2 separate regions of the Homo sapiens genome follow, and region 2 is reported to be linked to region 1. The links are microRNA targets in miRTarBase. Many come from high-throughput screens and were not tested one by one. Region 1 holds a microRNA gene; the other region holds the end of a gene's coding sequence.

Region 1 (4,066 bases):
TCCCCACTCTTCTGTCTGACTTCCCCTCTCACCTTGCAGCTTCCTCCTAGCACTGGGACATTTCAAGAAGCTCAGAGCCGGTTGAATGAAGCTGCTGCTGGGCTGAATCAGGCAGCCACAGAACTGGTGCAGGCCTCTCGGGGAACCCCTCAGGACCTGGCTCGAGCCTCAGGCCGATTTGGACAGGACTTCAGCACCTTCCTGGAAGCTGGTGTGGAGATGGCAGGCCAGGCTCCGGTATGAAGAGGCAGAGGGTCTGGTTGAATGGTTCCCACTAAGGGTTAGATAGGAGGCAGTTGAGTGACCAGTCCTGACTTGCTCCTGGCTCCCTTCCCTCCCCAGTCTCTAGCACTACTTGAGTGTCTGGGAAAGAAGATCCCTTTTAGAGACAGATAAGAAAGGACAGGACAATGCATTGACCTTGTCACCTTCAACAGAGCCAGGAGGACCGAGCCCAAGTTGTGTCCAACTTGAAGGGCATCTCCATGTCTTCAAGCAAACTTCTTCTGGCTGCCAAGGCCCTGTCCACGGACCCTGCTGCCCCTAACCTCAAGAGTCAGCTGGCTGCAGCTGCCAGGTAAGTAGTTGCTGAGAAGCCCAGCCCTGGACTGTGTGAGAGAGACTGGGGAGCAGGCAGTTCATGAGAGCTTCTTGGCTTAGGAATGGTTATAGGCAAAAGATAAATACTTACATAGGACCCAGGAATGATGACCTATTCACCTTTTCACTCAACTTTCTGTCACTCCCAGGGCAGTAACTGACAGCATCAATCAGCTCATCACTATGTGCACCCAGCAGGCACCCGGCCAGAAGGAGTGTGATAACGCCCTGCGGGAATTGGAGGTAGACACATGGCAGGCTGATGGCATTGAGGTTGAGGGAAGTGTTCTGGTTTTGGGCCTGAGGGAGGTGTCTTGGATCTCACTTTGCCCTCCCCCTACACAGACGGTCCGGGAACTCCTGGAGAACCCAGTCCAGCCCATCAATGACATGTCCTACTTTGGTTGCCTGGACAGTGTAATGGAGAACTCAAAGGTCAGCACAGCCAGGAACTCGGAGGAGAGAGGGCAGTAGGATGGAGCTAACCAGATGCTGCCCTGGGGTTCTGAGGACATGCTCTGACTCCCCTGATGTCCTCTGTTCCTCAGGTGCTGGGCGAGGCCATGACTGGCATCTCCCAAAATGCCAAGAACGGAAACCTGCCAGAGTTTGGAGATGCCATTTCCACAGCCTCAAAGGCACTTTGTGGCTTCACCGAGGCAGCTGCACAGGTTATTTTCCTGAGATGGGTTCTTTGAATGGCCCCTACTTTCTTTACCCCATTTTCTCTCAGCCTGACATACCTGTAGATAAATCAAGAAGTTTATGTTTGCAAAGCCAACTCTATGGAATCTGGGTTGTCCTCCTCCTGAAGTGGAGACACTTGTCAGCAATTACTGAACACCAGCAGTTCTGATTTCTGTAATTCCTGAACCCTGGTACTTTGGTTAGGATTACACTGCCCAACCGTGAGGCCTTTTCCAGCTGGCTTTCTCAAAATATACTAATTAGCTTATACAAACTATTTTTTCATGTTATTACTACTTTCTTTTTTTTTTTTTTTTTTTTTGAGACAGCGTTTCGCTCTGTCGCCCAGGCTGAAGTGCAATGGCGTGATCTAGGCTCACTGCAAGCTCCGCCTCCCGGGTTCACGCTAGTCTCCTGCCTCAGCCTTCCAAGTAGCTGGGACTACAGGCGCTCACCACCACACCCGGCTAATTTTTTGTATTTTTTTTTTTTTTTTTAGTAAAGACAGGGTTTCACCATGTTAGCCAGGATGGTCTCGATATCCTGACTCGTGATCCACCTGCCTCGGCCTCCCAAAGTGCTGGAATTACAGGCGTGAGCCACCGCGCCTGGCCTGTAATCACTACTTTCTTTTTTTTTTTTTTTTTTTTTTTTTTTTGAGACCGAGTTTCGCTCTGTCGCCCAGGCTGGAGTGCAGTGGCGCGATCTAGACTCACTGCAAGCTCCGCCTCCCGGGTTCACGCCATTCTCCTGCCTCAGCCTCCCGTGTAGCTGGGACTACAGGCGCGCGCCACCATGCCCGGCTAATTTTTGTATTTTTAGTAGAGACGGGGTTTCACCGTGTTAGCCAGGATGGTCTCGATCTCCTGACCTCGTGATCCGCCCGTCTCGACCTCCCAAAGTGCTGGGATTACAGGCGTGAGCCACCGCGCCCGGCCAATCACTACTTTCTTAAAATAGTACTAGTGACAAAATTTCCAGTTACTTGAGTTATCACTTAACTTTGCCTTTTCCCACATTATCAAGTATAAAACTACCTATTAGCTGTAAAGTATTTTGCTTTAGTATATGAATCCTTAAAACAAACTGGCATCATAAGAGTTCACTTCAGACTATTTTCCCTGAAAGCCTACCATCCTAGCCCTCCATCTCCACCACCTCCCTGTGCCCTGTCAGAATAGGCGCCTTGCTCTAGATGGCTTGTTTGATTTTGTTTTTTTGTTTTTTTGGTTTTTTGTTTGTTTGTTTTTTGAGACGGAGTCTCGCTCTGTCGCCAGGCTGGAGTGCAGAGGCATAATCTCGGCTCACTGCAACCTCCGCCTCCCGGGTTCAAGTGATTCTCCTACCTCAGCCTCCCGAGTAGCTGGGACTACAGGCGCCTGCCACCACACCCGTCTGATTTTTGTATTTTTAGTAGAGACAGGGTTTCACTAAACCTCTTTGTTGTTTGTTTGGTTTTTTTCCCCCCACCTTCTGAAAATGCATAGAGGAAAAAGCAAAGCTACTGTGTATTGATTGAAGTATGAATCAAACATTAGGATGTTCTTTCCATCATAAAAATGGCTTTTTAACCCCTCCCTTCCTTTCCAAATATCTGACGCATGGAGGTGCTATAAATGTGAATTAGCCTAATAACCTTCATCAGTTTTGAACTGTCTTTAAAAGAGGCTTTGCTTGTGTGCACAAAGGTGTGTATTTATATATGGCTCTCAAACGTTTTACTGCTACTTACAGTAAGCCATACTTTTCACTCTAAGACCCAACATACACAAACATATCTAAATAGAGATTGGATAAAAACCCTTGCTATGTAGTTTTCCTTTTTATTAACTTTTTTAATCTTCTGAAATGCTTGAATATACTTAATGAAAACAGGAGAGTATTTTTTTTCTTCTTTATAGTGTAACCATTGTTTGCTAATGTATCTCCACTCATGGAGAACTCTGGAAAATAAGCCCTATTCTCTAAACTTACCTCTGCTCTCTTTTGTCCCTACTATCACTATTCATTTCCCACCTGCAATCTTTATTCCTCACCCCCACCCCCTTTTCTCTTCCCAGGCTGCATATCTGGTTGGTGTCTCTGACCCCAATAGCCAAGCTGGACAGCAAGGGCTAGTGGAGCCCACACAGTTTGCCCGTGCAAACCAGGCAATTCAGATGGCCTGCCAGAGTTTGGGAGAGCCTGGCTGTACCCAGGCCCAGGTAACTCAAGGGAACAGGGACCACAGGCGAGTCTGGGAAAGGGCAGACCGACCCCGTGGAGTAGAGGGAGGTGAGGCATGTGGGAAAGAGGGCAGGGACCCATCTCTGACCTTGCACACACAGCTTCTTTTTGGGTAACTGTCTTTTTCTGCCATGGGTCTCATCATTTATCAGTTACTGCTAAATTCACAACTTCTCTGTAGATGTTCGAGCTTACTCTCCCACATGCCCTCTTATGGTTTCTCCATTAGTATGTCTTTCCTCTCCCATGCCCAGTTCATCTTTGGGTATCTCTGTCTCCTAGATCTTGACTTTTCAGGTGACTCTGTTATTCCTGTTTTGACTCCTCAGGGTATTGCTCTCCATCCCCTGACCCTAAAATGGCTCCTCCTTGGGTATGTACACCTCCTTCCTGCCCTCATCGTGGCTCTTCCATGTGTCTCCTCAGGTGCTCTCTGCAGCCACCATTGTGGCTAAACACACCTCTGCACTGTGTAACAGCTGTCGCCTGGCTTCTGCCCGTACCACCAATCCTACTGCCAAGCGCCAGTTTGTACAGTCAGCCAAGGAGGTGG
Region 2 (4,066 bases), not on the chromosome of region 1:
AAATAAAGTACTTAGTAAGTGAAGTATATGGTAAGTACCTAAAACATGATAGTTGCTATGAGCTGTAGCTTTGATCAGTTTTCTCATTTTCCCTCCCCTGACAGTGTAGAGACCTGAGTCCTGACATGGTGTCCTCTCCACCGTGTTCCCTCTCTTCACTTCCACTTTCCTCCTCTGTCAGGTATTTTGTCAAAGTGGCCTGGGCCTGGACGTTCTGTCTCCTTCTGCCTTTCATTGCCCTCACCAACTACCATCTGACCGGCAAGGCTGGCTTGGTCCTGCGGCGGCTGAGCACCCTGCTTGTGGGCACGGCCATCTGGTACATCTGCACCTCCATCTTCTCCAACATCGAACACTACACGGGCAGCTGCTACCAGTCCCCAGCCCTGGAGGGGGTCAGAAAGGAACACCAGAGCAAGCAGCAGTGCCACCAGGAAGGGGGCTTTTGGCATGGCTTTGACATCTCAGGTCACTCCTTCCTGCTGACCTTCTGCGCCCTCATGATTGTAGAAGAGATGTCTGTGCTGCATGAGGTGAAGACGGACCGAAGCCACTGCCTCCACACCGCCATCACCACCCTGGTTGTGGCCCTGGGCATTCTGACTTTCATCTGGGTGTTGATGTTTCTGTGCACAGCTGTTTATTTCCACAACTTGTCCCAGAAGGTGTTTGGCACCTTGTTTGGTTTGCTGAGCTGGTACGGGACATACGGGTTTTGGTATCCGAAAGCCTTTTCCCCAGGACTTCCTCCCCAGAGCTGTAGTTTGAATTTGAAGCAAGATAGTTACAAGAAATAAAAGAGTAACAGAGGGGGGACAGAAGGACAATGGCTAATCTATTTTTCAAATATATATTTTGCTTAGTTATTTGGCTAAATTATTGATCCTACTTCAGAGGGAAAGTGTACCAGGCAGTTTTGGTGGGTGGTGCTGAAGTCTGGGGAGTGAGTTTAGTCTTCAGACTATTCTTGGCGACATCACCAGTGTTGCAAGCACCACCATTCCCAGTTAGGCACTTTTTGTCCCTGGTAAGACTTGACCTTTATCTGGAACACTCCTTTTGTCCCTAGAGTGGGGACCTAAGGCTCAGCAAAAGGGCAGAATCAGGAAAGCCTTTATGGTGTGGCTAAAGGAGTGGCCAGAGCCTTGGGACTCCTTTGCTGCCTTCTCCCTGGTTCCAGTTGTCTTTAGATTTTCACGGCTCTTACTGCTGTTACTTAACAGTATTTTCCAGCCAGGCATGGTGGTTCACACCTCTAATCCCTGCACTTTGGGAGGCCGAGGCAGGCGGATCACCTGAGATTGGGAGTTCGAGACCAGCCTGTCCAACATGGCGAACCTCGTCTCTTCTAAAAATACAAAAATTAGCTGGGTGTGGTGGCACATGCCTGTAATCCCAGCTACTCAGGAGGCTGAGGCAGGAGAATTGCTTGGACCTAGGAGGTGGAGGTTGCAGTGAGCTGAGATCGCACCACTGCACTCCAGCCTGGGTGACAGAGCAGACTCCACCTCAAAAAAGAAAAAACAAAACAAAACAGTATTTCCCACTGGTCAGTTTTGCATAGGCATCTATTTCAGGCAGGGTTTTTTTCTTTTTTTTGAGATGGAGTTTTGCTCTTGTTGCCCAGGCTGGGGTGCAATGGCCCGATCTCGGCTCACCGCAACCTCCACCTCCCAGGTTCAAGCGATTCTCCTGCCTCAGCCTCCCGAGTAGCTGGGATTACAGGCATGCGTCACCACACCAGGCTAATTTTGTATTTTTAGTAGAGATGGGGTTTCTCCATGTTGGTCAGGCTGGTCTCAAACTCCTGACCGCAGGTGATCCACCTGCCTCGGCCTCCCAAAGTGCTGGGATTACAGGCATGAGCCACCGCGCCCGGCTCAGGCAGGGTTCTTTATAAAAACAGCCTGATGCCTGAAGGACACTCTCTGGTTGTAATATTTGTTTCATCCATGAAGTGTTTAAATATTGCAACTGACTTGCGATTAGCCACCAAAACAGGCCCTTTTAGATGCAGTGCCTCTCCGACCAAGTATTGGATGATTCATACGTAATGGACTATGATCATTTTCTGTCCATGTTTTCTATTACTATATGCTGGTTTTTTTGGAGCAATAAGATTACTTTTTTTCTGTTCTATTTTGAGCGAATCCTTTACAGTTTTTGATAAGAACTGTGACATTTGTTCTTTGTTGATAAAACTCCTGAAAATAACTCACAAGGCCAGTGCTGCACTCTGGCACATGTAGGTTGTTTTGAGGGTTTGTTGGTTGGTTGGTTGGCTGGTTGATTGGTTGGTTGGTTTAGAACACTAATGTACTTGTTATGAACCAAACTCTGGTCTTACAGTCTTAAATTCCACCTCATGGGGCTGTTTTCTCTGTTAGCAATGAAACCTGGGCCAGGTGTAGTGGCTCACACCTATAATCCTGGCACTTTGGGAGGCTGAGGTGGGAGGATTACTGGATCCCAGGAGTTTGAGACCAGCCTGGGCAACATAGTGAGACCCTGGTTTCTATAAATAAATAAGATAATCAAACCAGAAAGCAGGCATTTTAGTAACAGCCTGTTGAATTTTAAGGTGAATCAAGGTAATTTTGCAGAATGCGTTCTTGCACCGAAATGTCCCTGACCACATATCAGTGGTATAGACTGAACAGTGTGCTTCAGGGTCATGTGCTGAGTGCACTGATCACTCTGCTGTGGCCCAGGGCATCTGTACCTGTTGGACAAGATTATGATAATTCAGAAGTGAAGTAAAATGCCTCCCTCTGATGGCAAAAAGCCAACCTGTTTGCAAAATCACCCTTATTGAAGGGTGGCATGGCTGTGGTCCCTCCCTCCTGTTACTTGCATCACCAACCAAACTAAACCAAACCATACCTGGGCCTGTTCAGCTGGACTTGAAATCAGTTTCCTTTTTCTCTCCCCTTTGCAGCACTTTTCAGTTTCCAGCTTTGTCATTCTGTGGCCTTTGCTGTGACAATGCTGGGAAGGGTTAGAAATCCTGTCACCTCCATCCACAAAGGCACAGTTCCACGCCCTGTGATAAGATATCCCCTCTTCTCTCCCAGACTGTCTCCTTAAGCCTTTCAAACTGAGCCCCTTGCTGTTGGGGTAATCACCCTTAAGGCCGCCTTGATGCCCCTCTCTCCAATCAAGTCCAATAGTAGCATTAACTGAGAAGCACTACACCTGACTGGCTTCACTGAAGCTTAAGTGGTTGAGGATGAATCTTCGGTGTAAAATCTTTTACTATAAGGATATATTTTAAATATTTCATATCCCATCAAGTTGGAGGTTAATTTTATCCATCACAATGAGTCATGATTTGTTGCACCCAAAAGGAGCAGAAACACAGGTGATGAGATATGGGAGGTGGCACCATGGTGCTTTGGAGGCGTTGGTAAGATGTGACCCTCTGTTGCCTATGCCCATAAACCAGTGGTGGGAGTGGCCATGGAGTAGATGGCAGGGGCTTGTTGAAGGGATTGAAAGCTCTCCTAGGCTAGGCATGGTGGCTCACACCTGTAATCCTAGCACTTTGGGAGGCTGAGATGGGAGGATCACTTGAGGTTGGGCCAGCCTAGCCAACATGATAAAACCCCGTCTCGACTAAAAATACAAAAATTAGCCAGGTGTGGTGGTACACGCCTGTAATCCCAGCTACTCGGGAGGCTGGGGCAGGAGAATCGCTTGAACCCAGGAGGCAGAGGTTGCAGTGAGCTAGGATCACGCCACTGCACTCCAGCCTGAGCGACAGAGTGAGACTCTGTCTCAAAAAAAAAAAAGGCTCTCCAAAGTGTCATGTTCAGCACCAAAAGGGAATAGGCACAGGGTGACCCCAGAAGTTCATTTGTGACACTTAAATCTCCAGATATTTATCCCACGTGGGTCTGATGCGGGCTCAGCACTAAATTAACTGTATGTGGAAAGTGTCAATTGCAGAGCCTTCTGTATCGATGAGGCTTCCGCCACTTGTCCATGCTTAGCCCCCTTGCCTCTTCCTTGGGAGCATGCTTTCTATTCCTATGTGAAACAGCCTGACATAAGTGAAAGGATTTGG

Evidence for each region. Region 1 holds the annotated microRNA hsa-miR-6852-5p (CCCUGGGGUUCUGAGGACAUG, at 1,096-1,116, shown strand). A microRNA usually pairs through its seed, bases 2 to 8, with sites in the 3' UTR of a target mRNA and lowers its output. Matches are read on the target gene's strand: a 7mer-m8 pairs with bases 2 to 8, a 7mer-A1 pairs with bases 2 to 7 and ends in A, and an 8mer does both.
Region 2: the mRNA of FITM2 is a reported target of hsa-miR-6852-5p. Seed matches in the 3' UTR shown: 7mer-A1 at 2,469-2,475 and 7mer-A1 at 3,702-3,708.

What each region holds. Positions count from the first base shown.
Region 1 is chr9:35,707,766-35,711,831 of GRCh38, reverse strand. MIR6852 (microRNA 6852) reads left to right here and starts at 1,091; the gene lies at 1,091-1,156. TLN1 (talin 1) reads left to right here. Exons shown (of 57, transcript NM_006289.4): 29 at 40-237; 30 at 438-577; 31 at 750-843; 32 at 946-1,035; 33 at 1,149-1,271; 34 at 3,348-3,491; 35 at 3,940-4,066. RefSeq lists an enhancer at 1-1,051.
Region 2 is chr20:44,303,356-44,307,421 of GRCh38, reverse strand. FITM2 (fat storage inducing transmembrane protein 2) reads left to right here. Exons shown (of 2, transcript NM_001080472.4): 2 at 182-4,066. The coding sequence ends at 797. Among named protein-coding and RNA genes, the nearest start is that of FITM2, 5.8 kb to the left of the region's middle.